Linked DNA regions of Homo sapiens. The protein of the gene in region 5 interacts with the protein of the main gene of each other region in a biochemical or structural test. Each region holds a gene or a part of one and is shown on either strand. Other genes may lie near its edges. The genes, in order: SDC4, ADD1, MAST2, LIMK2, PRKCA, PATJ and DLG5.

Region 1 (4,194 bases), on a different chromosome or scaffold from region 5:
TGGTGGGGGCTTTCTTGTAGATGGGTTTCTTGCCCAGGTCATAGCTGCCTTCATCCTTCTTCTTCATACGGTACATGAGCAGTAGGATCAGGAAGACGGCAAAGAGGATGCCCACGATGCCACCCACAATCAGAGCTGGAGAGGAGGAGAGAGAAGAGGCGGGGGTGAGAGCTCCTCATCAGGACCTAAGGATGAACCCCTCTTTCCCCCACTGTCAGTTCTCTTACAACCAGACATCCTCACCATCACCACTGCCTGTGCCAGGCAAGCTGATGCCTTATTTAAGTTGACCTCATGACCCCAGTTATAAGAAGTGGGTCGTTGGCATTTTAAGTCACTGAAGACCACAGGGCTAGTGGTAAGGCCACTCCTTTTTCTTTTTGAGACGAAGTCTCACTCTGTTGCCCGAGCTGAGTGCAGTGGCGTGATCTCGGCTTACTGCAACCTCCACCTCCCAGGTTCAAGCAATTCTCCTGCCTCAGCCTCCTGAGTAGCTGGGATTATAGGCACGTGCCACCATGCCCGGCTAATTTTTGTATTTTTAGTAGAGATAGGGTTTCACTATGTTGGCCAGGCTGGTCTTGAACTCCTGACCTTGCCCATCTCGGCCTCCCAAAGTGCTGGGATTACAGGCGTGAGCCACCGCACTCGGCCAAGGCCACTATTTTAACCCACATCTGCCTGAATCTAAAGCCTAGGCTCTTTCCAAACACCACGCGGACTCCCCTGCAACAGTCTAGCACTAACTGAACCAGGAACAGGAGAAAACCGTAGGCTATGGAAATCCCTGTAGACATATTTATCCTGCAGTCCTTAGCACAGGGCACTCTCTAGCTCTCCCTGTGTGCATATTTACCTATATAGCCTACACTTCATAGACAGGTATGTACATTCAAAGTGCACACATGCAGAACATACTAATTCCAAACTCTTATGTTACAATTACATACAGAACTCAGTAGCTAAGGCCTGGTTTCCACTCCTACCTCTCCTACTTCCTGGCTGTGTGATTTGGGGCAAGTTTCCTTCATCTCCCTACCGCAAAATGGGAAGAGCCATACCTTTCTCATACATTTGTCCTAAGGATTAAATAAATTAATCCACTCAAAGTGCTTAGAACAATGCCTAGTGCATAGCATATTCTCAAGATTCATTAACTGTAAGGGTTTAAGGTTTATATCTGTGTCCCGAACCCCCTGAATCAGGTGTGCACAACAGGAGGTGCTTAATAAATGATACTTTCAGGCTCCGAGAGGAGAACCTGCCTAGTGTTGGGCAGAGATGGGCTTCTAACAGTGAGTGGGTCTGGCCTGTCCACTCTGCCAGGTGGCCTGAATGACTCATTCCTGTTTGCTAGGGGCAGGGATGCTTCATAGAATCCCTTCTGTGGCAGATTGAGTTCCCTAATTCGGTCTTACTCGGGCTAAGAAGATTAATTTTCCATCCCTGCACACACTACAAATCTATGTACACAATGGGGACAGAGTGGCACAGAGGAGTCAAGCAAGGTTCTTTCTTGGGTAAAATCCTATGAAAAAGCAACAAAAAAGTACCCCCAGGAGGTGCCAGAGCAAGCACATGGAATATCAGGCATCAACCCCATTCTTGTCTCTATCACCTTTCCCTCTGATGACCCCAGTTCCTCCACGAGGCCCTGGGTCTGCGCTGGGATGCCCCACAGGGTCAAGTTTCAAGCACAGGCTCAGAAGCTGACTGTGGTCCTCAGTCCAAATGCCAGGTCTGCCACTTCCAGCTTTGTGACTTCGGATAAGTTCTTTAGACTGAGTTTTGTGTTGTACGGACTCAATCAGGGGCACAGGAATCATACAGCATACAGCAAGCATTTAATAAGGCTCCTGGGTGCTGATTAAAGCTTCTGGAATGGGGGATTCCACCACACCAGCTAACAATATAACTTTTCACATGAGGCTCTTAGGCTTGTATAATTCTCAAATGGAAGATTAAAGAGATAACCTGGCTTCAGTTCTTTTCTTACTATGTGGCCTAAAGCCTGGGCCTCAGTCTCCCCATGTATAAGAAGCAGGTGCTTAGATTAATCAGTGGTTTTCAAATTTTTCTTTAGAAGCAATAGCACCTTTAGTTAATTAGAGCAAAACCTTATGCAAATCCAAAGTCTTATGCAAATCTTTTTACTTCTGAAAGAAAAGTAAAAAGAACTTTGGCTCAGATACCAGGAAGCCAGGGTCAGGGCTGAGGTGGGCCCAGTCATCAGGGGCTGTGCTCCCAGGAACCCTCTTTACAAGAGGCAGGTGAGACCTTCCATCTGTCCTGGATGAAGCCAGGCTCTGTCCCTATAGCTCAAGCCTCCTTGGAGCTGCTGGCTCTGTTGATTCCCAGGAGACAGGAGTTACCCAGCATGGGCCCAGGGTGCCCACTTGCCAGGCCGGTTCATCCAGGCTGGCCCTCGGCCATGACCTTGGGGAGTTCCCTCCATCCCTTTTGTCAACACCTGGGACAAAGCATTCCTCACCGCACATTCCAGTAAAGAACTCTCAACTGAGGCCAAATCGGAATAGCCCTTTATAGTGTGCAAAGTTATTTCATATTTTATTTTTCATGGACTCATTATATCAACCCCAGAAGGTATCACTGTACCCATTTTACAGATAAGGAAACTGAGGCTCATCAAGTTCGAAAGCTTCTCAGCCAAGGTCACAAGGCTGCCAAGTGATAGAGTAGGGGGAGGGGAAGCTAACCCAATTCGAAGGAGCCTCCAGACTTACAAGGGAAATTAACTTTTAATGATTAACTCCCAGATGCCAAACTTATACAGTGAAAGTCCTTTGCAAAATAAATGAGAAAGACTTAAGGCAGAAGAATGACTCAATGCCTATTTTCCAGAAGACTTTGATAGGTGCTTTTTCCTCTCCCTCCACCAGGCTGCACAGTCAGAGCCACCCCATAAGGAAGGTGTAGTCTTTCAATGTTCTAGGGCAACCTGAATAGGCAAAAGGAAGGGGCACCAAGGAGCCTCATGGCTGGAGGCATCCCTGCCTGCAGGTGCTCTCCCCCGCTGAGCCCCATTCCACCTTCAAGGCATCTTATAAGCAGCATGGGGACTTACCTGCCAGGACCTCCGTTCTCTCAAAGATGTTGCTGCCCTGCACAGTGCTGGACATTGACACCTTGTTGGACACATCCTCACTCTCTTCAACGGGTGAGATTCTCTTGGGGATAACCTCATTCTCCTCTAGTTTCTTGGGTTCGGTGGGGACTTGGCTCCCAGACCCTGCCCTCTCAGGGATATGGTTATCTAGAGGCACCTGGATGGGCGGAAAGGAGAAGAGACACTCAGCGTATTTTGGAAGAGACTCAGGGCAGGGGACAGGGACATTCAGCCAGGCAGAGAATCTGGTTCTGCCATATTCAGCTGAACCATATGGTCCTGGAGCAGGAATTGGCAACACTGTCTCCACAATTATGCTGCCAAAATCCTTATCCCCAACTTTTTTAGTATATCTGTCCCAAATGAAAAATGAATGCACCCAAGGGAACAGGGAAGCAGGTGCTCTCCTGCACTGCTGGCCACTGGTTATTCTAGAGCAACCACTCTGGAAGCAATTTGGCAAAACCTTAGACATCGCTTGCCCTTTAAGGTGGCAGTTTTGCCCTGGAAACTCTATTGTAAGGAGCTCTTCAGAGACTACGTGTAAAAGATGCTTGCTGCAGCTCCTCTGCCTATGAAGTAGCCATTCTTTTATTCCTTTACTGTCTTAATAAACTTGCTTTCACTTTACTCTATGGACTCACCCTGAATTCTACCTTGTGCAAGATCCAAGAACCCTCTCCCTTGGGGTCTGGATCGGGACCCCTTTCTGGTAACATCTTTCTGGAGAACCACAGAAGGGATGAGACGGAGGAGACTCCCGAATCAAAGGAAATGGACTGCAGCACTGATTGGAGGACTTTGGATATCACCTTTTGTCAGAACTAAGAGTTATGAATGGCCCTCACCATACTGGCCCTTTCTGACTGAACCCCTCTCTACCATGGATACAAGAGGCCCTAATAGTTAAGCAGGAATATCATCACCCTATTCAGCATGAAGAAGTTATAGAAGATGGATCTTTGTCCCTCTGCAACCCTTAGGATTAAGGGTTTTCTTACAAAAGGGAGGGGGAAAATGTCAGGTGTTTGAACCAGAGTGCCTACATCTTGAATAGGGGCTGGGTA
Region 2 (4,235 bases), on a different chromosome or scaffold from region 5:
AAGTTAATTAAAAGGAAAGAGATGGCCTGTAAGGCAAGGAGTGGGGGCAAAAACTCCACCCAGCATCAGGAGTGGCCATCTGTGAAGGAGCACAGCGGCCCTGAGGACACAGCCTGGGGGCGCCTTCCTTGCACTTACCCGGGCACCCGCTCTGTCCATTCGTAAACGGCCTACAAAGTTACCAGCAACTGACAGGTTAGGCACCACAAGCTGTTTAGTGTTTAAAAATCAAGCCACACATCAGGGCCAGGGGAGTCAGCTGAGTGGTTAGGAGCAGCACAGGAGGCCCAGGCCCCAAACTCTCAGTGCTTTACCTTTGGGAAGCTGGAAGCACCCCCACCCTGCCAGCTGCCCCAGGCTAATTCCAGGCCACGCTTCATGAGAACCGGGAAAGGGCTATGGGCACACAGGCGCCGCTCCCCCTGAGGAGATGGGGCCCGCTCTGCTGGGCATGGTGTGGCTGATGCTAGGACGGAGGCTGCCCCAGGGCACTCGCTCTGGAGAGCTGCCATCATCTGAGTGAACATCACACTGCTTTACGAGGGTCCAATATCCGCTCCTCTGCCCACCTCCTTTGGACCAGCTTCAGCAAAGGTCCAAGGCAATCTGACCCCACACGGCAGGTGGCAGAACCCCACCCTGTCTGAACCGAGGCTGCACTTACATCTGATCCAGTGTGGCAAAACCCTCCCACCAAGCAATCCAAAGAGACCCTCAAAGGCTGGAGGTAGGAACTCCTGAGGCCCAGAGTGCTCCATGGCACCTAGGTGCGTGGAGGTACCCGCTGCCGCTGAAGGCAGCACAGCACTCAGGTGACTGAACCACTTCCAGGAAGGCCTCCAAGGGACTGGGTACAAAAAAGGGGGGCTTCTGTTTTTATTTTAAATAAACAGAAAACAAAACTTAATAAACAACAAAGAAGCAGGAGAATGAGGCAAAGCGCAGGGCACCGGTGGAGAGCGGAGGCAGCACGGTACTTACTAGGGTAACAGGTACTCTCTAGCGCATCCGTCTCCTGCTTGTGACGCAGCCACAGGGAGAAAAAAGCACAAGGAGAGAATCTATGCATTCAGTCACAGCCATCAGGTTACAGAAGAAGAAAGGCAGGGCCACGGGCTTCACGAGAGACATGGATGTACGAGACCGAGGGACAGACACCCGGGATCACACACCACAGACACACGGTGGCTGAGAGGCAGCCGGCGTGTGGCTCACACAGCGGAGGGCACCTCCGAAGGTGGCATCTGCATGACAACACGGCACGAGGAGTGTGCGAGCAATGGGCAACGTGGACACCAGCAACCATGGTGGGTTCCGACCCCCGAGGCCGGCCTTCCTACCTGGTCACAGCTCACATACAAATCTGTTTTGCCTGGAGTTACCCAGGACAGAAGCAATATAGGAGGAGAAAGGTGTCACGTCCTGGCGCTGATGCAAGCACACACTTCCGTGTTGCTGTTAACACGACTCCCGCCACATTCCGCCACAGCGCGCACGAGCCGTGCACCCTCCCACAGTGGCGGCCGCTGCCACCCAGAGCTCACCTTCCTCCAGCTTGATGGGAGTGCTGGGAGGCGGGTGGGGGACCGCAGGCTGGTCTGGAGGACTCTTTTCTTTCTGTTCTCTAGCCTCGTCCAGATTCTCTGCAGAGAAGCAAGAAGGATATGGTAGGAGCTGTGGACGCCACGCCATGAGCCTGTACCTGCCTCCATGGCAGATGGGGCAGCCCGCTCGGCCGCCCTCTGAGAAGGCAGGGCTCTCTCAACCCTTTCCCTGATCCTCTCCAAGAGAGGATAAAGGAAGCTGTGACCTGGGTGTTGACTGATGCGAATTTCAGAGAAACTTAACCAACTTCAGATACAAAACTTATTTCTATTCTTATTCCAAAGAGAGTCTGCCAGAGCCACTTCTGTGATGGACTCGAATGGTATGCCCTGGCCTGTCCCCCGCTGTCCTGTGCGAGTAGGGACCCCTCCCTCCCTGCCTTCTCCCTGCTGAGCAGGTGGCTGAGGGTCCTGAACCCACTCACCACCTTAAGGGACATCACATGAGCATTATTTTGGTTTTAATTCTGTGGTAGGGCATTTTATCCCAATAATTTAAACTTGGCAACTGTAATACGTATTTTTACTTTTTAAAGTGAAAAATGCTAATAAGAACCAGAGGAAAAAATGCAGGAACTAGGATCCTGGATATAGAAAAGGATTCCAAGTCTACTTCTCATTTCGGGGAAAATATGGACCAGCACTATTCTAACTCCTTCCATCTCTGTCTTTATTTCAGAAGTTTAAGATTAATAGCTTAGGATCAGCAGGTCCGTATTTTGAACCAGCAGCTATCATCATCCTTCTGAGCTCCCAGGGCCTCTGCTCCCACCCTAACAGCTGGCTCGCCTCCCCAAGTACCACGTTGGCAGCTACCTTCCAGAAGCCAGGTGTCCATAAAAAGGCCGCCATACCACCTAGCTGAGTGAGCATACAGCCTCAACCGGGAAAAGGTGCTGACCTCTGGCAGCCAGCCTGCATTTTACCTGTGGCACATTCTCCCCTCAGCCCATGCCAAGGGCCAGATCAGACCTCCTGTGGGTTCTCCTGCTGACAGCTCTGTGATCACAGAGCACGGCCAGAGCCTGTCCCCATCCACTCAGCTGCCATCACAGCCCTGCTGAAGGAGCCTCACACATCGGGGGGAAACTCCACATATCTTGTTTGACTTGTTTTTAAAAACAATCCAGGTTACTCAGATCCCAGGAGACTCCAAAGGGCAGACACATGTCTGTGTACATGTGCACAGAAACTAGGAGGAGGCCACATGACCCACAGCTCAAGCTGACTACCTCCAGTTCTCGCTCTAAGGCAGGTAATTACAGCAATGGCTCAGACAAAGCTTCACTGGAGGGAGACAACCAGCAGCAGGGCCTGGTGTGTGTGGCGGCCTGAATAGTAAATAGCGGTGTGACACTGAAAAACAATTCAGCAACTCAAATTTCAGTCACAACTACGTAATGCAGTGGCTGGTCTAGAACGAGACAAAAACCGGTGAAGAGGTCCTCTTAGGAGGAGTGCCTAGCTCCCAGGATGACGACGGCCCAGGAGAGCAACAGTCAGTCCCACACAACAAGGTGGCTCCAGCAAGGCTGACCCCGGAGGACTGAGAAGCACACTGAGGTTTCAGTAAAAACCTGAGTTGGAGCTTACGGCCCTGAGGATGCTGGCGGGAGCCTCCTGGCAGGGGTCCCTGTGCCCCTGGTTCTTCTTGGTGCCAGCACCAAGGCTGCTCAGAGCCTAGTGGACAAGAGAGCTGGCAGCAGGGAGCTTGGGGGAAAAGCAGCTGATGCCCAAAAGCCCTCAAGGAATAGGCTTTGGAGACCTGCTTCTCTCATTAGTTCTCAACATTTCCTTTTCAAAGCCTGACATTTGAAACCACCTGCTCCGTGAGGGTCTCAAACTTGAGCCGCTTATTTGTATTCATTTTAAGACTGCCCCATCTTTGACAAAAACAAGACCGCCTTTGTCAGCGGGCTACCAAGAGAAGTACAGGCTGCACCAGCCATTCCTGATGGGACCTGGGCACATGCCAGGGCAGTCAGCATTTTCACCCTCCGGCCTGTGACCACACCTGCACAGGAAACCCTCAAGGTTTATGGAGAAAGAGAATTTCTGTCAGAAACCCCAAGCCCTACACACAAGCACAGTAAGGACGTTCAGAGCGTCCCCCTGCACAGAGGCCGGGGCTGACTGCTGTGACCAAAGACTCAGTGAGGAAGGCAGTGCGCTTCTGTCCAAATCAGGGCTCGGCCACGCACAACCTCGTTCTCGCGAGCCGCCCTGTCTGAGCTCCCTATTCCTCTGCTCCAGCCGGGGGAAAATGACCTATCTCTCAGGGTTACTTTGAGAATGAGATGAGATGTACGCACAATAGCACTGGGCATGTGCCCGGCACAATGACTGCTCAGCAATGCTGAGTGTTAATGAATCAAACTGAGTAAAGGAGGTCTCTCCCCGGTGAAGCTTCAACAGACAGAAATACTGTGTTCGTAAAGAGACAAATGTCAGGGTGACAGGCAACATGGCCGAATAGGAACAGCTCCGATCTGCAGCTCCCAGTGAGATCAACGCAGAAGGTGGATGATTTCTGCATTTCCAACTGAGGTACCTGGCTCATCTCCCTGGGACTGGTTAGACAGTGGGTGCAGCCCACGGAGGGCGAGCCAAAGCAGGGTGGGGTGTTGCCTC
Region 3 (3,881 bases), on a different chromosome or scaffold from region 5:
GGGGTTGTCACTGATCTGCAGGGAGCCCTTCGTACCTGAATGCACAGCATCGGGGGTCACCCGGTAGCCTTGAGTGGGAGATCGGGGGGAAAGGCTGTGGCTGTGTGTGGGAGAGCCTGGCCCACTCTCCCCTGATGACAAGGAGCGGTTAAGGGAAGAAAGGCTGCGGCTGGTGTGGAGCAGGGATGCTTGCTTGGTGATCTTGCGGAACAGGGAGCTCCTTTTTCTGCTGCGGGGATAAGGGTCAAAGGCTGAGTCGGTGCAGTGAGCACAGCACACACTGGACCCCCAGGGCCAAGGCACCCACCACGTACCAGCACTCATGTGGCTCAGAGAAAACCCTCTTCACTGCGCCTGGCTCACCTTTCTTGCCCATCCTTGCCGCGGCTCCTCTTGCTCCTTCGGGCCATCTTGGCCTTGTAGCTGCCCTTCCGAGCTGGCCCCACTTTAATGGATGTGTTCTCCAGGGGAGTTGTTGAAATGGCCACCTTGTTTCCACTCTGGGGAGCAGAGCATGAGGCCTAGGCTAAGCTGGAGCCATATTCTTGCCCCTCCCCTCCCCCAATCCTTCCCTTCTGGCATGGCTATACCACAGCTCCAGCTTTTTGTCCCTGCACCAACACATCTGAACCACAGGCCTATATTATTGTTTTTACAGATGAGGAAATGGCTCCCATTGGAGCCCCAGAGTGGTTTGGGGTAAGAAGGTAGAAAACAGGCTAATCCGTCCCATTCTGCAGCCCTACCCACAGCTCAGAAGGATCCCTGGGCCTTAGTCAGGGAGGGTACTGCCTTGTGGAGAAAACTCTCTGTTGTGCCACATTCAAGTTCTGTGTGTACCTACATCTTTTTTTTTTTTTTTTAAGACAGAGTCTCACTCTGTCACCCAGGCTGGAGTGCAGTGGTGCGATCTCAGCTCACTGCAACCTCTGCCTCCTGGGTTCAAGCACTTCTCCTGCCTCAGCCTCCCAAGTAGCTGGGATTACAGGCATGTGCTACCACACTCGGCTAATTTTTTTTTTTTTTTTTGGAAACAGAGTCTTGCTGTGTCTCCCAAGCTGGAGTGCAGTGGTATGACCTCAGCTCACTGCAAACTGCCTTCCAGGTTCAAGCAATTCTCCTTCCTCAGCCTCCCGAGTAGCCGGGATTACAAGTGCCTACCACCACGCTTGGCTAATTTTTGTTATTTTTAGTAGAGTTTTGCCATGCTGGGCAGGCTGGTCTCAAACTCCTGACCACAGGTGATCCACCCGCCTCGGCCTCCCAAAGTGCTGGGATTACAGGCGTGAGCCACCACACCCAGGCATTTTTTTTTTTTTTTTTTTGTATTTTTAGTAGAGGCAGGGTTTCACCATGTTGGCTAGGCTGGTCTCAAACTTCTGGTCTCAAGTGATCCACCTGCCTCAGCCTCCTAAAGTGTTGGGATTTACAGGCATGAGCCACCGCGCCCGGCCTGTGTGTACCTACATCCATACTCGGTGTAGATGTGTGTGCACCCAACTCACCCACTCCCCTAACTGCCATCACAGACTCACAGGCTGAGGTCATTCAGGGACCATGCAGGCAGCACGCCCAGCACTAACCTTCAGGATCAGCTCTACCACCTCCGTGTGCACCAGGCCATGCACAGGTTCCCCATTGACATGGGTGATGAGGTCACCTTGACGAAGCCCTGCCTCACTGGCCGGACCTCCATCCTCCACGTGCTGTGCCAGGAAGAGAACAGTACTCAGACTGGAGCCTGAACACGAAGTATGGGGCCTGGTTCTGGACATTAAGCTGTGAGCCCCTTCACCACCACCCTTTGACCCCCGAGCAGGGACAGATGGGCTCCACAAAGGGGAAGCTGGAAGGATGATGAAGCAGGGAGACAGCAGGTCTGGATGGTCAGACATACCCACACCATATGGTGCACGGTGTAGACATCGGAGTCACCCATGTAGACGCGAATGGCCCGCAGGGTGAAGCCATACTTCTTGCCAGCTCGGTGGATGATGATGGGAGGCCTCATGCTGCCAAGGGCTGGCAAGAAGTCCCTGCTTGGAGAAGAGTCCCGGGATGATGGGTTGGACGACTGAGAATGTGGGGACATGGGGCTGGCCAACGGGGAGCAGGTGTGGTGTTCTGGAGAAGGAGAAGCCAGGACTTAGTGGGTCAGAGGGCTTTGGCCTGGCCCCTGGTCCAGTCTGTTGATGTCAGCACAACTCTAGTCACAGACAGAGCCTGAGCCTAGGTCCATTTTCCCCACAGCCCCTGACCTGTGAAGCCCTCTCCCGTGTCCAGACCCCAAGAGACGGTGGTGGTGATGAGAAATGGCAGCTAGCATTTATGTGTGTATCAGGGACTATATAAGCTTGTCATATATATTTAAATGTCACAACCTATCAGCTGGCCTCTATTATATCCACATTTTTGGATAAGAAACTTGAGGCTTAGAGAAGTTAAGCAACTTGCTCAAGGTCAAGAGCCTGTTAGTGATGGAGCCAGGATTTGAGTGTGAGCTCTCTACCCCAAAGCCTGCACTTGTGACATGGTGCTGTCCTGCTTTCTGGCACATGTATACACAACCCCAGACACCAATACACACCTTCAGAGACCACAGTCAGATCTGTGCTTAACACACACACACACACCTGCCACGTGCAGAACCCTCCCAAGGCCTAGAGATTACAAGGCCCTTCCTGTGAGTTTTATCCCAGCTCCCCAGGGGCCTCACCCGAAGGAATGAGGAGTGAGAGGGCTGTGGCTGAGGCGGACTTGATCACTTTGTTGACAGGGCGAGCAGTGCGCTTCTCTGTTGAGTCCCCAGAGAGCAGCCGGTGGCGGGCCCTACGCACAGCCAGGTCACTGATGGCCTTGGCTGTGGCTCCCTCAGCCAGCTGTGAGGTCCCACGGCCTCGGGTCTCCATAGCTGTAGGCCCAAGTAAGCAGTGAGACCCGCGATGCCGCTGAGCCTCCCTGCCCTGCAGTATCCTCCAGCTTAGGTCGTTTGGCCGCCCACTGGGCCATACCTGGACTGGAACCACTGCTCCGGCCAACAGCTTCCTCATCCAGCTTTGGCCGCTGCTCCCCTGAGTGTTCAGTGACAGGCCCAGATACCCCCTCTCCAGATGGGGGTGTCAGGACCCATATACCCTCCTGTGGTTGCCTCCTGAGGGTGCTGCTGGCCTCCTCAGGGCCCTCCGGGAACCGAGGCGCATCCAGGAGGCCTGAGCAGCGGCGTCGCACTGTCATTGGAGGGCTTGAGTCACTCTCTGTGTGGGATGACTCAGACACCGACAGCCGCTTCCGTAATCTATGAGACACAAGGCCTGGGGTGAGTGACCCAGGTGGTCCCCCTCCTCCTGCCAGGTCTCCTTAGGGGCACACAAGGGTTATAGTAACAGAACTTTCCTCCGCAGACATTCCTCCAGGAGCCACCCTTGTGAATGCCCCCTCCCTGCCACCTGCACTCCTCCCTGGCATCGGAATCTCTCCCATGATCTGTGACAATGCAGGGATAGCTGTGTCGCCCACCCTGGGTGAACTCTGGGTGCTCACATCTCAGGGGAGCCAATCACCCAGCTCCGGTCTCGGCCTTTGAGCCCTGCCAGGCCATCTGAATGGTCCTCCTTCTCCTCACTCAGGCTGCGCTTGGTCGGGGGTGGTGTCCGGCGCTCCTCGAGCAGTGAGAGCCGCTCCATGCTGCTGTACACCTGTGGGCACAGGGGATGCGCTGGGGATGGGCTCTGGCAGCCGTACCTCCCAAGTGGCATAAAGCATCCTTGGCATCGGAAACCTAGGAATTTGAACCAGTCGGTTCCATCCCTCCTTCACACACCCCTGCTGAATATTTGGGGAAGGAGTTATTCCACTGATCTGACCTGGCATCTCATGTCAGG
Region 4 (4,376 bases), on a different chromosome or scaffold from region 5:
TCCCAGGACCCTGTGAGCTGGGAGAAAAAGGCAGGATACCAACCTGCTCTCAGGCTCCAGTCTGCAGCAGATGGCGGCCAGCGGGAAGAAGGCCGGGGGACAATCTGTGGGAACAAACTTCTCCCAGAAAAGCTTCACGTTGAGGCCAAAGTCCAGTGTTCGGGGAAGGCAGTCAGGATCTGCATACACCTGCCCAATGATCTGTAGGGTAAGAAGACAGCTGTTTACAAAGGACTACAGAGGCCACAGATACTTGGCAAGGGAAAGGGATGCTGGGATGTGGACAGGAAGAATGGCAGAAGAGGAGGTGGTAAAATAGGTTAGAGAGCTCTCCCCAATCCCCAATCATCTCTCCAAATCTTACTAATCCAGACCTGTATCCACTGAGAGCTGGGTTACTGAAGAGGACTAAGAAGGGGCTTCACTGCAGAAGCCAAGTGTTCCAAATCAGCATCTGCTCCTAGCTTCCACTCATCCTACCCTGCCTTGTCTGTGTCTCCTTGTGGCTGTGTGTGTGTGCCAGAGTTAAGGCTCTATGAGGTGCTGGATCTGATTCATGTCTGAAACCCTCTGGCACCAGCCCAGTGCTCTGAACAGAGGTGTTCAATTAATATTAAAGAAAACAATTTTTTAAAACAAATCTTCCTTCATGGCCAGGCACGGTAGCTCATGCCTGTAATCTCAGCACTTTGGGAGGCTGAAGCGGGTGGATCACCTGAGGTCAGGCATTTGAGACCAGCCTGGCCAATATGGCGAAACCCTGTCTCTACTGAAAATACAAAAATTAGCCAGGCGTGGTGGCGCACACCTGTAGTCCCAGCTACTTGGGAGGCTGAGGCAGGAGGATTGCTTGAACCTGGGAGGCGGAGGCTGCAGTGAGCCAAGATTGCACCTCTGCACTCCAGCCTGGGTGACAGAGTGAAACTCCATCTCAAAAACAAAAACAAAAACAAAACATTCCTTCATTATCCTAACCATCCCTTGTCTCTCCTCTCCTCTACCCCTCACAACTTTGTAGGAATTACAGAAGGCTTTGAATGTGTGTGTGTTTGAGTCGCTGAGATATGCTGTCACCTGACTAAACTCCTAAAGGTAGGAATCTTTCCAAGATTCCTCACTCTGTCCACGTGGTACCTGGCACAGGGCTGACACTTCCTAGAGTGGCTACTTCTACTTGAAGGGAACTGAGAAGGGCTACATTTGGCCCAAGAGCTAGCTAGACAGCCACATGAACAGTCTCTTGCCCTTCCTTCTGGAATTCTGAGTCTCATCTGCCCCTTATCGACCATGTGCAAGCCACTGCCCTCTTCCAAGCCTCAGTTTCCTCAACTAAAAAAAAAAAAAAAAAAACCTGGCCGGGCGAGGTAGCTCACGCCTATTAATTCCAGCACTTTTAGAGGCTGAGGCAGGCGGATCACCTGAGGTCCGGAGTTCAAGACCAGCCTGGCCAACATGGTGAAACCCTGTCTCTACTAAAAATACAAAAATTAGCCGGGCATGGTGGTGTGTGCCGGTAGTCCCAGCTACTTGGGAGGCTGAGGCAGGAGAATCACTTGAACCCAGAAGGCAGAGGTTGCAGTGAGCCCAGATTGTGCCACTGCACTCCAGCCTGGGCAACGAAGTGAGGCTCCATCTAAAACAAAAAAACCCTGCCAGTCCTTCTCTTAAGACCAATGAAACACGAACGTGGCAAAGATGTGCAGATGCGTTATAAACCATAAAACCCTACACCCATGTTGATTTTAGTCAAGCTAGTCATCCCTAGGAGGAGATGCCCCAGTTCCGAGGGAAGGCAGAGCTGCTAGGCCTGCTGCCTCGGGCATGGCCTTGGTGCCAGAGCTCACCTCACAGAGAACGATCCCAAAGGAGAAGATATCCACCGTCTCATCATAGCTCTTTCCTTGGGGAACACAGGAGAGCACACTGTTAAGTTTACATCCCTTACCTGCTCTGCACTGGGTCTAGGGTCAATCTAAGCCACAGCTAAGAACTAGGGCTAGAACAGGTTCTGTAGGGACACCCCACAGGCTGTCCTGCGCAGACACCACCTGAAAATAGTCCTTCCTCAGCTGTAGGTGAACTGCCTTGGAGAGCCCTTATAACATAACACTGCCTAGGATGAAACTGCACGTTAAAGTGGAAAAGAACCAGACTAGGGTTCATCTAGCCTCTGCCATTAGGCAGCTGTATGCTCCTAGGCAATTCACTGAACTTCTCTGGGCCTCAGACTCCAAAATGGATTGTATTCAGACCATTTCTGAGGCCTCACAACCCTGATTTCAAGAATCCCAACCAGCATCTCTGGTTGGTTTGAGCATTATCCACCAGAGGGCACCACACTTCAGTTCTCACCATGGAGAGAGAAGGCTAAAGCTGGGACAATAGCCTGAGCTCTTAGCGATCCCTGAGGCACAAATGCCACAGTCAGAACTCACCTTATCCCCCATGATGGGACACTGATCAGTTCCCAGCCCCCTGAGCTCAGGAGCTAAATCGTGAGGCCCCACCTGGCAAGGGAAAAATATCCTCAGCTCTGGGTATCCGGTCCTACGCTTCACAGGCCTCCCCTGGAATTCCCAGGGCTCTGATGCAAGGGCAGCATCTGTCCTCCCTCTGCGGGTGTCCCCTCCAGGGCTTCAGGACTCACCGTTCAGCATCTCAGGGGCCATCCAGTAGGGGTTTCCCACCACCGTGTAGCGCTTCTTGCGGTCGTTCTTGCGCAAGGTGCGTTTCTTGGTGGTGGCCTTCTCCATGGGGGCCCTTTTCCTCTCTTCCACTATGAGCCGTGACAGCCCAAAGTCTGCCACCACCACAGTCTTGTCCTGGTAGGATAAAAGACAGGTCAGGACTTCATGGGGATGTTCTCAAACCTGGCCCTGGGGAGGAAGCATAGGCAAGAGAAGCCACTGAGAAGGGGAGAAAAGGTGTATAGCAAGGGAGAATCAGAGCAGAAAGCTCTATCAAATAGACACACTCAGGCCAGGCACGGTGGCTTCCACCTGTAATCCCAGAACTTTGGGAGGCCAAGGCGGGTGAATCACCTGAGGTCAGGAGTTCAAGACCAGCCTGGCCAACATGGCAAAACCCCGTCTCTACTAAAAATACAAAAAAAAAAAAAAAAAAATTAGCTGGGCGTGGTGGCACACGCCTGTAGTCCTAGCTACTTGGGAGGCTGAAGCAGAAGAATCACTAGAACCCGGGAGGTAGAGGCTGCAGTAAGCCAAGATTGCACCACTGCACTCCAGCCTGGGAAACAGAATGAGACTCCATCTAAAAAACAAAACAAAACAAAACAAAAAAACAGACACACTTGGCATTTGTGTTTCTGAGGGTCTGGTATCTGTGCACAGCAGACTCCCAGCCCACAGTGGGTTCATGGCAGAGCCACTGGAGCCCTGGAGGTGAGGCTCAGGGACTTGGAGAGTGGAACTCAGAGGTGGGACAGGGGGTTGCTTTTGTTTTTCCCTGTCCTGTCTTATTCCTAAAATGATTTCAGGCAGTGGCTAGAACCAGGATAAGACAGAAAAAGGCAAGGTGGAGGCAGTAGATGGGGAGACTTGGGGGAGACAAGCTCTTTGAATAGCTACAGGGCAGTCATGTGGGAAAGGAATGAAGATTGCGTGGTGTGGGTCTAGAGGGCAGAGCCAGGGCCAGCCGGTAGACACCCAGGAAGCCAGATAGCAAGTCAGTAAGACAAACAACATTGTAACCACCACAGCTGAGGGGCAGTGGGAGGAATGCTGGTCTCAAACTGGTCCCTGTAAATTTACTAGCTCGGTGGCCTCAGGCTGAGGCTTCAGGTGCCACCACTGTAAAATGGGGTCAGCAATGAACTGTTTTACAAGACTACTATGGGGCAAAAGCAGGTAAAATGACAGGGTTTTCTACATATAGTCAACAAACTTCTGAAGTCCCTTCTAATCAAATTATTTCAAAGGTTGCTAATGAGAGAAGGTGAAATTATGTCTGTGTGTGTCTCGGAGCTCCCAGAGGACAGAGAAGGGCATTGGAAGAAGCAGGAAGGGAAAGATAGGAGCTCCTAGGCAACACCTCTGCCCTCTAGCCAGAGGGGACAAGTCAGCCTCCTTTGTGACAAGGAAGCCAGGAAGGATAGGACCCTGGAGGCCAGGCCCAGAGCAGTGGGACATACCAACTTGATGAGGCAGTTGTGCGAGTTCAGATCCCGGTGGATGATGCACATAGAGTGCAAATAGGCCTGGAACAGAAGCATGAGCTGAGGCTACAGGGCCAGCAAATCAACTAGACCCTGAATCTGGAATTGGGCGCCATAGATGCTCTCCTACCAGGCCATGCCCACCCAGCTTCAGAACCCAACCTGGACAACAGGGCCAGGGCCTCCTATGGCCTCTCCCTTG
Region 5 (4,376 bases):
TGGTGGCTCATGCCTGTAATCCCAGCTACTCGGGAGGCTGAGGCAGGAGAATCACTTGAACCCAGGAGGCAGAGGTTACAGTGAGCCGAGGTCACGCCACTGCACTCTAGTCTGGGCGACAGAGCAAGACTCCATCTCAAAAAAAAAAACGAAAGTAGGTTCTCAAGCACACCTCCTAGAAGATAAAGTGTGAAAAAAGAGCTGAGAAAGCACAGCCCGTGAGACTCAACTGCCTTATAAAAACACTAGCAGCACGTGCTGGCCTCTCGCCTCGGCTGGGTTCTGTGCAAAACCCCATACATTTCACCTTCCTGACAGCCTTGGGCAGGAGGTGTGATTGTTCTCCCAGTGTTACAGATGAGCAAACTTGGTGGACCCCACTTCACAGTTAATCCAGAGCTATTCTCTGTTAGAGACCCAAGGATGCCTGGTTAGTTTGAAATGTGTGCTAGCTCAGAGTTAATTCATATTGGCCCTGTGGTGCTAGCAGCAGGTCCAAGGGCAGTAATTGGCAGCATCTTGAAAATCATTCTTAGGATCCTTAGTGAAACTCCCAGCTCTTCCTGCTTCAGAGTCACCCTGGGCTCCCGGGGACTTCAACACGCCACTACCCTTGTGGGTGGCTGACAAGGTGAAGAGAACACTCCTTCCCCACTTTTGGGGTCAGGCTACCAAGCCGTGCTGCCTAAGCGGCTGTGTGTCTCAGCGACCCCAGTGCAACAGTTCTGCCTGGAGTGGACCCTGGAGGAGAGGAACAGCCGAGACAGCAGGCCTCTCCCTGCCTCCCCAGGGCGCCATGCAAACATCCTCCAGCCTGAGACCACCCTGCAAATAAGCTCCAGTCAGTCACCCAGCCTGCCCGCTGGCCAGCTCTGTCTAGGTGTGCTAAATCCTAGCTGGGCCAGGTGCAAATCTCCCAGCCTTGCCGCCACACCTACCTCATATCGCTTGAAGCTTAATTTAGGGGCTGGGGTTGCTGGAGCAGCCCAGTAGGAAGGCAAGGATAACACAGTTTTTACTTCACTACAAATATTGCGGCAAAAAAACAGATGTGGGGCAGTAACTCACCCCGTCGCTTGGTCCAGGGGTAACTGCCTGCAGCCCCAGCCGACATCCTGGCCTTTCAACACGGAGCTGTGACTGACGGCCCTGCGTGCGTGGCTTCCGTGCTCTCAGCTCCGCTTGCTCGGTGAGGTGGACGTGAGGGGACAGGGGCTGTCCCCTTGTTGCTGCCTCATTGCCAGCCGTGCAATTCCCACCCAGGGCTTCTGTTCGGGGTGTTTCAGGGTTTACAGTTGGGTAACTCGTTGTTGTCTGCTGTGCCTGGCTTTTCAATCCAATAGGCCTGCAAGTCCTCCGAGATTCCTCCTCCTAACCAGCCCGGAGTTCCCCAGGGCCGTGCCCCTCCCCAGAGAGGGCCCTCGGAGAGCTGCTCCCGCATTGTCATGTTGACTGACCTTTCCTTCTTTTTGTCTTTTCTCCACAGTGTGGCAAAGGAGCAGAGAACTTTGACAAGTTCTTCACACGAGGACAGCCCGTCTTAACACCACCTGATCAGCTGGTTATTGCTAACATAGACCAGTCTGATTTTGAAGGGTTCTCGTATGTCAACCCCCAGTTTGTGCACCCCATCTTACAGAGTGCAGTATGAAACTCACCAGCGAGAACAAACACCTCCCCAGCCCCCAGCCCTCCCCGCAGTGGGAAGTGAATCCTTAACCCTAAAATTTTAAGGCCACGGCCTTGTGTCTGATTCCATATGGAGGCCTGAAAATTGTAGGGTTATTAGTCCAAATGTGATCAACTGTTCAGGGTCTCTCTCTTACAACCAAGAACATTATCTTAGTGGAAGATGGTACGTCATGCTCAGTGTCCAGTTTAATTCTGTAGAAGTTACGTCTGGCTCTAGGTTAACCCTTCCTAGAAAGCAAGCAGACTGTTGCCCCATTTTGGGTACAATTTGATATACTTTCCATACCCTCCATCTGTGGATTTTTCAGCATTGGAATCCCCCAACCAGAGATGTTAAAGTGAGCCTGTCCCAGGAAACATCTCCACCCAAGACGTCTTTGGAATCCAAGAACAGGAAGCCAAGAGAGTGAGCAGGGAGGGATTGGGGGTGGGGGAGGCCTCAAAATACCGACTGCGTCCATTCTCTGCCTCCATGGAAACAGCCCCTAGAATCTGAAAGGCCGGGATAAACCTAATCACTGTTCCCAAACATTGACAAATCCTAACCCAACCATGGTCCAGCAGTTACCAGTTTAAACAAAAAAACCTCAGATGAGTGTTGGGTGAATCTGTCATCTGGTACCCTCCTTGGTTGATAACTGTCTTGATACTTTTCATTCTTTGTAAGAGGCCAAATCGTCTAAGGACGTTGCTGAACAAGCGTGTGAAATCATTTCAGATCAAGGATAAGCCAGTGTGTACATATGTTCATTTTAATCTCTGGGAGATTATTTTTCCATCCAGGGTGCCATCAGTAATCATGCCACTACTCACCAGTGTTGTTCACCAACACCCACCCCCACACACACCAACATTTTGCTGCCTACCTTGTTATCCTTCTCAAGAAGCTGAAGTGTACGCCCTCTCCCCTTTTGTGCTTATTTATTTAATAGGCTGCAGTGTCGCTTATGAAAGTACGATGTACAGTAACTTAATGGAAGTGCTGACTCTAGCATCAGCCTCTACCGATTGATTTTCCTCCCTTCTCTAGCCCTGGATGTCCACTTAGGGATAAAAAGAATATGGTTTTGGTTCCCATTTCTAGTTCACGTTGAATGACAGGCCTGGAGCTGTAGAATCAGGAAACCCGGATGCCTAACAGCTCAAAGATGTTTTGTTAATAGAAGGATTTTAATACGTTTTGCAAATGCATCATGCAATGAATTTTGCATGTTTATAATAAACCTTAATAACAAGTGAATCTATATTATTGATATAATCGTATCAAGTATAAAGAGAGTATTATAATAATTTTATAAGACACAATTGTGCTCTATTTGTGCAGGTTCTTGTTTCTAATCCTCTTTTCTAATTAAGTTTTAGCTGAATCCCTTGCTTCTGTGCTTTCCCTCCCTGCACATGGGCACTGTATCAGATAGATTACTTTTTAAATGTAGATAAAATTTCAAAAATGAATGGCTAGTTTACGTGATAGATTAGGCTCTTACTACATATGTGTGTGTATATATATGTATTTGATTCTACCTGCAAACAAATTTTTATTGGTGAGGACTATTTTTGAGCTGACACTCCCTCTTAGTTTCTTCATGTCACCTTTCGTCCTGGTTCCTCCGCCACTCTTCCTCTTGGGGACAACAGGAAGTGTCTGATTCCAGTCTGCCTAGTACGTTGGTACACACGTGGCATTGCCGCAGCACCTGGGCTGACCTTTGTGTGTGCGTGTGTGTGTGTTTCCTTCTTCCCTTCAGCCTGTGACTGTTGCTGACTCCAGGGGTGGGAGGGATGGGGAGACTCCCCTCTTGCTGTGTGTACTGGACACGCAGGAAGCATGCTGTCTTGCTGCCTCTGCAACGACCTGTCGTTTGCTCCAGCATGCACAAACTTCGTGAGACCAACACAGCCGTGCCCTGCAGGCACCAGCACGTGCTTTTCAGAGGCTGCGGACTTTCTTCCAGCCATTGTGGCATTGGCCTTTCCAGTCTTGGGAGGAGCGCGCTGCTTTGGTGAGACACCCCCATGCAAGGTCCTCAGAGTAGCCGGGTTCTACCACAAACAGAAACAGAATGAAAGTAGCTGTCAGTCCTTGTAGAGAGCCGCTCTGTTTCCTCCCAGAAGCATCTCCCAGCTAAGCTCGCATTATTTTTCTCCTCTGGCTGTTTGCCTGAAGTTCACAGAACACACAACCATGAAAGGCTTTTTGAGGTGAGAGGCCCAGGTGGTCCTGGCAACCCTGAGTAGAAGGAGAGACGGGGTAGGGAACGGGCCCGGCCAGAAAAGAACCATTTCTTCTGCCATCTTTTATGCACCATAGACATCGAGACTCCAGGGGGTCCTGGCTCCCCTGTCCCTGCAGCCCTGCAGGTCAGTGCATGATCTGGGTTCGTGTCCTGACCAGGTGCTCCTCCTTTGATCCGAGGGGAAAGGGACTGGTTTATAGAAAGAGCCTAGGAGACAAAAGGGCCAGTCCCCCTGCCCAGAATGGAGCAGCAGCAGGACAGACCCCCACGAGGCCCCCCAGAGAGGAGGAAGATCCCACGGAGGAACACATGAGGTTAGGGACCCTTGTTCAGCACCCCAAACAGCCTGCCTGTTTAAAGCAGGCAGCAGGCTTAGGCCTTCCCTGCAACCCCAACACCCACAAGTTTGTTTCTCTAGGAAACACATTCACTGTCTCAGCTGGCTGT
Region 6 (4,376 bases), on a different chromosome or scaffold from region 5:
CCAAAGTGCTGTGATTACAGGCGTGAGCCACTGCGCCTGGCCATGTAAATGGATTAATACTCCAAATTATAGGTCCTCTCTATAACCTCCTCCCTTATACTCACTACAGTGGTGAAACATTTTATTTTTCAGTCTTCTCAGAACTAACTTACTGATTACACACTAAAATCTCTGCTACAATAATTTAATTATTAGCTTTTGCAGTGCCATGATCATGGTTCACTAGCCCTGACCCCCTGGGCACAAGGGTTCCTCCCACCTCAGCCTGGACTACAGGCACGCACCGGCACGCACCACCACGCTCAGCTAGTTTTTGTTTTTGTAGAGATGGGGTTTTGCCATGTTTTAAATCATTTTGATTGAAAAGAGATGCTAATAGTAGTTATCATTTGTTGAATGTGTACCATGTGCTAGGCCAAATGCTCTAAATTATCCTCTTTAGTGTTTGCAGTATACATATGAAGTAATTTTTTTTTTCTTTTTTTTCTCCTGAGATGGAGTTGCCCAGGCTGCAGTGCTGTGGCACCATCTTGGCTCACTGCAACCTCCATCTCCTGGGTTCAAGCAATTCTTCTGCCTCAGCCTCCCAAGTAGCTGGGATTCAGGTGCCCGCCACCACGCCCAGCTATTTTTTTTTTTTTTTTAAACAGAGTTTTGCTCTTGTTGCATTTTTATTAGAGACAGGGGTTTCACCATGTTGGCCAGGCTGGTCTCGAACTCCTGACCTCGTGATCCACCCGCCTCAGCCTCTGAAAGTGCTGGGATTGCAGGCGTGAGCCACCACACCCAGCCATGAAGTAATTTTTATTAACTCTTTTTTACAAACAAGGGGACTGAGGTGTAGGGAGATTTAAACAATTGGCCTACAGAGCGGGTCCTAGGGATAAACCCTGAGTCTCTGATTTCAAAGCTCATAGGCTATAGAATTTCCCATATTTCAATAATTGGCTATTGAATCAACTGGCAAAAAGTTGATTATTGAAGTACACATTTAGTTCTAATCCTGTTTTTGTATTAGTGACCAATAGGAAATGATCTAAATTCTCGTCAACAGGAGATTGGGTGAAGAAAGTATGTATTCCTACCATCGAATGTTACTTAGTTGTTACAGTGGCTGAGCAGGAACTGCCTATATCATCATGAATAACACCCCTCACCGCAGCCTGGTGTTTTTTTTTTTGGAGACAGGGTCTCACTCTGTTGCCCAGGCTATGGAGTGCAGTGGTGTGATCATGGCTCACTGCAGCCTAGACATCCTGGGCTCAACTGATCCTCCCACCTCAGTCTCCTGAGTAGCTGGGAGTACAGGTGTGTGCCACCACAGCTGGCTAATTTTTAAATTTTTTTGTCAAGATGGGGTCTTGCCATGTTGCCCAGGCTGGTCTCAAACTGGGGCTCAAGTGATCTGCCTGCCTTGGCCTCCCAAAGTGCTGGGATAACAGATGAATAAATCTTAAAAATGTAAAGTTGAGCTTAAAATAGCAAGTTGCTGAAGAATAAGTATACAGTATGATGTAATTTATATAAAGTTTAAAAACCTGCTGAACAGTAATATTGTAAACCAGGACAATGTGTGTTTTAAGAATTTCACATTTGAATTTTGTCTGTATTGATTGCTTGCACTTGGGAAGCTGCCTCATAGTTCAAAGAAGTTAGTGGAACCACTGTGAGATGAACATTCTCTAATGTAGGTTGTACTCTTAGAACCAAAGCAGACCAAGGTCCTGCCCTTGCTTTGACCCTTTGCACACCTTGCTTGGTTTGGTAGATGGCTTTTAGGCCTGGGTCTGTGGGCTTTCAGGGACAGGTCAGTTTCATTTCACTTTAGCTTCCATTAATAATAATTAGTGGATGTTGCTTTGACAATAGGGGCTGGTGGGCAGGGCTTCTGCCTGGTATCCCTTGGGGTTATTTTCTGGAGCTTTTTTTTTTTTTTTTTGAGATGGAGTTTCTCTATTTTTGCCCAGGCTGGAGTGCAATGGTGTGGTCTCGGCTCACCACAACCTCTGCCTCCCGGGTTCGGGTGATTCTCCTGGTACTATTACTACTGAGTAGCTGGGATTACAGGTGCCCGCGACCATGCCTGGCTAATATTTTTGTATTTTGAGTAGAGACGGGGGTTTCTCCATGTTTGTCAGGCTGGTCTTGAACTCCCAACCTCAGGTGTTCTGCCTGCCTCGGCCTCCCAAAGTGCTGGGATACAAGCATGAGCCACCACGCCCGACCCATTTTTCGGCGCTTGTAATGAAGTTCCAGGACGTAGTGTGGTAGAAGAGGGAGATAAGTGAATGTTGAGGGTCAGGTTGTAAATCTTCCCACCATTTAAAATTTGAAGTATTCTCATTTTTAAAGTAGTTATCTACTGAAAGGTCACTAACAGTTGAACCCCTTCCCCATGGAATTAACTCTCTCCAATGGCATCTATGTTTCCTTGCTTTGTTTTTACCTTTTTTCATAGTATCCCTTTCCCTTTTCTATTTTATTTTACTTTTTTTTTTTTTTTTGAGATGGAGTCTCACACTCTGTTGCCCAGGCTGGAGTGCAGTGGTGCGATCTCCACTCACTGCAATGTCTGCCTCATGGATTCAAGTGATTCTCCTGCCTCAGCCTCCCGAATAGCTGGGATTACAGGTGTGCACAATGACACCTGGCTAATTTTTGTATTTTTAGTGGAGACGGGGTTTCACAATGTTGGCCAGGCTGGTCTCAAACTCCTGGCCTCAAGTGATCCGTCTCCTTGGCCTCCCAAAGTGCTGGGAGTACAGGCGTGAGCCACCACGCCTGATTCCTGATATGACCATAATTTCTGGGGAGAAGCTGGGAGTGTACAGTCGGCAGTGCGGGTAAAATTGAATAGCATTTTTGAGGTGGAAACTAATCATTAGTGAATAGTATGAATGCCCAGGTCTTTTTAGTGGGGACTGGCTACATGATCAGAGACCTCTAAGTGTGAAAATTGCCCAGATTTTTTTTGTCATTGTTGCTCGTTGGAGAAAACTGCTACCAACCAGAATACAGAAGCCTACCATAGACTGGGTGCATTGTCTCTAGCCTGTAATCCCAGCACTTTGGGAGGCCAAGGCAGGCAGATCATCTGAGGACAGGAGTGTAAGACCAGCCTGACCAACATGGTAAAACCCTGCCTTTACTAAAAATACAAAAATTAGCCAGGTATGGTGGTGCATACCTGTAGTCTCAGCTACTAGGGAGGCTGAGGCAGGAGGATTGCTTGAACCCTGGAGGTGGAGGTTGCAGTGAGCCAAGACCGCACCACTGCACTCCAGCATGGGCAACAGAGTGAGACCCTGTCTCAAAAAAATAATAATAATAATAAAATAAAAAAGGCCGGGCGTGGTGGCTCATGCCTGTAATCCCAGCACTTTGGGAGGCCGAGGCGGGTGGATCACCTGAAGTTGGGAGTTTCAGACCAGTCTGATTAACATGGAAAAATCTTATCTCTACTAAAAATACAAAATTAGCCCAGCGTGGTGGGTCATACCTGTAATCCCAGCTACTCAGGAAGTTGAGGCAGGAGAATCGCCTGAACCCGGGAGGCAGAGGTTGTGGTGAGCCAAGATCTCTCCATTGTACTCCAGCCTGCGCAACAGGAGCAAAACATCATCTCAAAAAAAAAAAAAAAAGAAGCCTACCATATAGCAGTTTAACTTTGTTCCTACAAAAGTGGCCAAGTTATAGGAAGAGTATTGATATGCATTGGTTAACTTTGAATAGTTTAATGAGAAAATTAGCATGAGTTAACTGAATTATTCTGAAAAACTGACTCTTTTCATTTCTTTCTTTTTTTTTTTTTTTTTTTTAAGACGGAGTCTTGCTCTGTCACCCAGGCTGGAGTGCAATGGCACAATCTTGGCTCACTGCAACCTCTGCCTCCCAGGTTCAAGCGATTCTTCTGCCTCAGACTCCTGAGTAGCTGGGATTACAGGCATCTGTCACCACACCTGGCTAATTCTTGTATTTTCAGTAGAGGCGGGTTTTCACCACGTTGGCCAGGCTGGTCTCAAACTCCTGCCCTTGTGGTCCAAGGCCTCCCTTGTGCCCGCCTCGGCCTCCCGAAGTGCTGGGATTACAGGGGTGAGCCACCGCGCCTGGCCTTCATTTCTTTTTTAAAAAATTTATTTATGTTCATTGAAGCACTATTCACAAGTTTTAATTTCAGATTCTGAATTTAAAGTGGTGTCTTTCAACTTCAATTTCAACATTTCCTGAATGTTCACTGTCAGGAGGATTTAAACATTGCTTAGGCTTAAGCATATATCTGCAAACTGTCAGGATTGTTCTGGAATTTATATATGTTTCCCAAATTCCAGGGATATAGTGGTCCAAAATATAGTATTTTTATATTTAAGGTATTTAGA
Region 7 (4,376 bases), on a different chromosome or scaffold from region 5:
AGCCCAAAGCCACGGTCCCCAGAGGCATCTGAGCGGAAGGAGCTCAGGCTACGCTCAGAGGCACTGGGACAGGCCTGGGGGCAGACCTGCAAGGGTCCCCCAGGGAATGGCTTATGCAGAAAGGAGCTGCTGCCTCCTGGGGGGCCTGGCTCCTTCCTGTCTTCCAGCCTGTCCGTGTAGAAGATGTCTGTCTGCGTGGAGTTATTGTGCTGTATCAAGTTCCGTTTGTTATGAGCCTGGACCTCCGGGCCATGGGCTCGAAAACTCAGCATCTTATCAGAGTCTTTGATATTTTCAAAAATGTTCTGGCCACTCCACGAGGAGCTCTGAGGGAATACCTAGGCAGGGATTGCAGAGGAGTGAGAGAGAGAGTGAGATGGCAGGACTTGGAGCTGCCACTGAAAACCATCCCCAGAGGTAAAGCAATGGTCAGGAATGGGCCACCTGCCCCTTAAAAAAGAGACAGATAGACAGAGATGCACACACACATGAACACATATGCTTCTCCCTAATGGATAAGTTTTCTCATGGCTCTGGTCACTCTGAACTCAAAGAAGAGTCAAAGTTTTCTTAACTTTGAACACTTTCTGAAATTATCTGGGCCGGGCACAGTGGCTCATGCCTGTAATCCCAGCGCTTTGGTAGGCTGAGGCAGGCGGGTCACGAGGTCAGGAGTTCGAGACCAGCCTGACCGATATGGTGAAACCCCATCTATACAAAAATTACAAAAATAAGCCAGGCACGGTGGCATGCACCTGTAGTCCCAGCTACTTGGGAGGCTGAGGCAGGAGAATCGCTTGAACCCGGAGGTGGAGGTTGCAGTGAACTAAGATCACGCCACTGCACTCCAGTCTGGGCGACACAATGAGACTCTGTCTCAAAAAGAAGGAAATTACCTGCATAATGTCTTGAATATTTTTTTTAAATATTAAACATAAAAGTAAAAATTCATTGTTAAAAATATATCTCTTGTGGTACACCCAGACAACGGAATATAAATTAGCACTAAAAAGAACTGAAACAACGTGCAGGAACCTTAAGTGTATATTAGCAAATGAAGAAGCCATTCTATACACTCTGTGATTCCAACTCTATGGCATTCTGGAAAACACAAAAGCATGGAGGCAGTAAAAGGATCAGTTGTTGCCAGGGGCTTGCATAAATATGGGGAGCATAGGGAATTTTTAGAGCAGTGAAACTACTCTGTATGATATTACAATGGTAGTACATGTCATCACCTGCATCAAAACTCACAGAAAATACACCAAGACTGAACCTTAATGTAAACTATGCATTATAGTTAATACTAATGCATCCACATTGGCTCACTAATTATAACGCATGTACTAACTACACTAACGCAAAATGCCAAAATTGGGGAAACTTGGGGACAGGAGTGGGGATGGTGGTGATGGGGTGGTTGAGAGAGTGCTAAGAATTCTGTATCAGCCCAACTTTTCTGTAAACATAAAACTGCTTCCAAAAAAGTCAAATAATTTGAAAATAGTTAATTTAGAAAACATCTCTTAATAGAAAGTTAGAAAAAATAGGCCCAGCCATTTCATTAAGAGATGTTTTCTAAATTCGGCCTATTTTTTCTAACTTCCTATTATTAAACTTTTCAAATATGTAGAAAAGTATAATAAATGTCCATAAATGTACCATCTAGATTCAAAAATATTTCACTAAATTGTCTTTTTGTCTATAATGATACTACAGAACACTGGAAAGCAAGTTACAAATATCATGACATGTCACTTCCCTTCCTTTTTTTTTTTTTTTTTGAGACAGAGGTTCGCTCTTATTGCCCAGGCTGGAGTGCAAAGGCGTGATCTCAGCTCACTGCAACCTCCGCCTCCTGGGTTCAAGCGATTCTCCTGCCTCAGTCTCCTGAGTAGCTGGGATTACAGGAATGCACCATCACATCCGGCTATTTTTGTATTTTTAGTAGAGACGGGGTTTCTCCATGTTGGTCAAGGCTGGTCTCGAACTCCCGACCTCAGGTGATCCACCCGCCTCCCAAAGTGCTGGGATTACAGGCATGAGCCATTGCACCCAGCTTCTTCCTTTCATTTTTGAGATAGGGTCTCACTTTGTCACCCAGGCTGGAGTGCAGTGGCACAATCACAACTCACTGCCACCTCGACCTCCCAGGCTTTTTGTATTTTCTGTAGAGGCAAGGTCTCGCTGTGTTGCTGGGCTCAAGTGATTCGACTGCCTTGGCCTCCCAAAGTGTTGGGGTTACAGGCATGAGCAACCATGCCCGGCCATGACACATCACTTCTAACAACTTTAGCTTGTACCTCCCCCAAATAAAGCCATTCTCCTGTATAACAACCCCAATGCCATCATCATACCTAGGAAAACTGGCAACAATTCCCTAAGATCATCTAATTATCGGGTCCAGATTCAAATGTACCCAACTGTGCCCAACATGGCCTTGACTGCTGTTTTTTGATTTCAGACCAGCGTCCAGTCAGGGTTCCTGCCCCCTCTGCACTCAGTAAATGCCCACCCTGTTCTCAAGGATCCTGTGACCCCAAGGAGTAGCATGGCTATGTGGAGCCGGGGCTCTGCCCATACTCCTGACCGTGAGAGCAGAGCCAGGTCCAGCCCTTACCTTCAGGAGGGACAGGGTCAGGGAGTCCTGGCAGCTGCGCAGCAGAGATTCACATTCATTCAGAGACTTGTTGTCCAGTGCAATGCCATTGATCTAGAGCAGGACAGAGAGCATGTCAGGCCACAGGCAGAGCGGCCTCAGGCCTACCAGTCAGGATCTCTGCCTACCTAACCTCCTGTGCTAGACAGTCACCAAATGCAAGGTGCCAAAGTCAGGAGTTGGCAAAGGATAGAGGTCTTTCTGGTGAGGCCCAAGGAGTCCAACTAAGGGGATTCTGAGGTAGAGGAACACATAAGCCTTCACAGCAGGCTAGGGGAGGAGCATGTCCTTCTGGGATCAGAACACCGAGGACCCGGAGGGAACATCTTGGCACTGCTGTGCCCGGCCATGTGGCGTGGGACCTTGGCTCAGAACTTCCCAGCTCCTTGCCTCCACAGAGGAAATGGAAGATAAATACATGCATGTGGCTCGGGAGAGCGGGGGACTAAAAACAAGACCATGGATAGGAAAGGCCTTGTAGAGAAAGTACCACGCGAAGTGGGGCCCTGTGAGTGTTCACAAAGAACCTCTCAACCCTGCTCCCGGAATCTCTGCTCACAGCTATGTGCAGACCTTCTTAAGAAGTATATGTGCAACCGGTGAATGACCAAACTGTGATACACCCACATTGCAGAACACTGCTCAGCAACGATAAGTAACAAGCAGCCAGCACACGCAGCCTCTTGGGTGGATCTTGCAGGCATGGTGCGGAATCAAAACAGCCCAGCTCCAAAGGTCACATACTATATGATTCCATGTCTGTAACATTCTCAAAAGGACAACATCACAGAGATGGAGAAAAAATCAGCTGCCAGGGGGCAGGGATGGGAGGGAGCAGGGGGTGTTACTACAAATGGGCAGTGGGAGGGAGACCTCAGTGCTGATAGAACAGCTACGTATCTTCATTACGGTGGTGGTTACACAGAACAACATGTGTTTAACCACACACAACCACACACACACACACACACACACACACACACACACACACACAGTACCAATGTCAATATGCTAGCTTTGATATTATACTCATGCAAGGTGCAACCATGAGGGGAAGCAGGGAGAAGAGTACATAGGACCCCCCTGTACTATCTCTGCAGCTTCCTATGAATCTATAATCATTTCAAAGTCAAGTTTTCTTTTTTTTTTTTGAGATGGAGTCTCGCTCTGTCCCTCAGGCTGAAGTGCAGAGGCATGATCTCGGCTCGCTGCAACCTCCGCCTCCCAGGTTCAAGCAATTCTCCTATCTCAGTCTCCCGAGTAGCTGGGATTACAGATGTATGCCTCCATGCCCGGCTAATATTTTTGTATTTTAGTAGAGATGGGGTTTCATTGTGTTGCCCAGGCTGGTCTCGAACCCCTGAACTAAGGCAATCCACCCGCCTCGGCCTCCCAAAGTGCTAGGATTACAGGCGTGAGCCACCATGCCCGGCCAGTCAAGTTTTCTTTTTAAAATATCTGCAGAGTGATTATCTGGAAGTAGTAAATTAATTTGTGGTTTTTTCCTTATAACATATCCACATTTAAAAAATTTTCATAGTGGCCATATAGCTTTTACACTCTGGCTCCCCAAAAAATCTGAAAAACATTGGCAAAGATGTGAGGCAATGAGTTCCCCCACACACTGCAGGGAGGACTGCAAAAGCCATGACCTTTTTGGAGCAAAGGGGGAAGATCTCGCTGGATGTTAAACATTCATGTCCTCTGACCCAGCAAA

The links.
Region 1: the proteins of PRKCA (region 5) and SDC4 form a complex in vitro, tested with the Homo sapiens proteins (one study listed by IntAct).
Region 2: of the proteins of PRKCA (region 5) and ADD1, one has a biochemical effect on the other in vitro, tested with the Homo sapiens proteins (one study listed by BioGRID).
Region 3: the proteins of PRKCA (region 5) and MAST2 interact in a test that uses a peptide from one of them, tested with the Homo sapiens proteins (one large-scale study listed by IntAct).
Region 4: the proteins of PRKCA (region 5) and LIMK2 interact in a test that uses a peptide from one of them, tested with the Homo sapiens proteins (one large-scale study listed by IntAct).
Region 6: the proteins of PRKCA (region 5) and PATJ interact in a test that uses a peptide from one of them, tested with the Homo sapiens proteins (one large-scale study listed by IntAct).
Region 7: the proteins of PRKCA (region 5) and DLG5 interact in a test that uses a peptide from one of them, tested with the Homo sapiens proteins (one large-scale study listed by IntAct).

What each region holds. Positions count from the first base shown.
Region 1 is NC_000020.11:45,327,281-45,331,474, forward strand, and holds part of SDC4 (syndecan-4 precursor), read right to left. Parts: intron 3,285-4,194; coding exon 3,086-3,284; intron 136-3,085; coding exon 1-135. UniProt on the Homo sapiens protein: Cell surface proteoglycan which regulates exosome biogenesis in concert with SDCBP and PDCD6IP.
Region 2 is NC_000004.12:2,923,422-2,927,656, reverse strand, and holds part of ADD1 (alpha-adducin), read right to left. Parts: intron 1,644-4,235; coding exon 1,545-1,643; intron 1,016-1,544; coding exon of another isoform or gene 982-1,015; intron 1-981. UniProt on the Homo sapiens protein: Membrane-cytoskeleton-associated protein that promotes the assembly of the spectrin-actin network. Binds to calmodulin.
Region 3 is NC_000001.11:46,030,421-46,034,301, reverse strand, and holds part of MAST2 (microtubule-associated serine/threonine-protein kinase 2), read right to left. Parts: intron 3,696-3,881; coding exon 3,541-3,695; intron 3,296-3,540; coding exon 3,012-3,295; intron 2,912-3,011; coding exon 2,717-2,911; intron 2,125-2,716; coding exon 1,898-2,124; intron 1,707-1,897; coding exon 1,584-1,706; intron 501-1,583; coding exon 364-500; intron 230-363; coding exon 36-229; intron 1-35. UniProt on the Homo sapiens protein: Appears to link the dystrophin/utrophin network with microtubule filaments via the syntrophins. Phosphorylation of DMD or UTRN may modulate their affinities for associated proteins. Functions in a multi-protein complex in spermatid maturation.
Region 4 is NC_000022.11:31,270,976-31,275,351, reverse strand, and holds part of LIMK2 (LIM domain kinase 2), read right to left. Parts: intron 4,217-4,376; coding exon 4,151-4,216; intron 2,823-4,150; coding exon 2,648-2,822; intron 1,901-2,647; coding exon 1,845-1,900; intron 202-1,844; coding exon 44-201; intron 1-43. UniProt on the Homo sapiens protein: Serine/threonine-protein kinase that plays an essential role in the regulation of actin filament dynamics. Acts downstream of several Rho family GTPase signal transduction pathways.
Region 5 is NC_000017.11:66,802,387-66,806,762, forward strand, and holds part of PRKCA (protein kinase C alpha type), read left to right. Parts: intron 1-1,486; coding exon 1,487-1,651; 3' UTR 1,652-4,376. UniProt on the Homo sapiens protein: Calcium-activated, phospholipid- and diacylglycerol (DAG)-dependent serine/threonine-protein kinase that is involved in positive and negative regulation of cell proliferation, apoptosis, differentiation, migration and adhesion, tumorigenesis, cardiac hypertrophy, angiogenesis, platelet function and inflammation, by directly phosphorylating targets such as RAF1, BCL2, CSPG4, TNNT2/CTNT, or activating signaling cascade involving MAPK1/3 (ERK1/2) and RAP1GAP.
Region 6 is NC_000001.11:61,748,514-61,752,889, forward strand, and holds part of PATJ (inaD-like protein), read left to right. Parts: intron 1-4,376.
Region 7 is NC_000010.11:77,821,764-77,826,139, forward strand, and holds part of DLG5 (disks large homolog 5), read right to left. Parts: intron 2,714-4,376; coding exon 2,621-2,713; intron 339-2,620; coding exon 1-338. UniProt on the Homo sapiens protein: Acts as a regulator of the Hippo signaling pathway.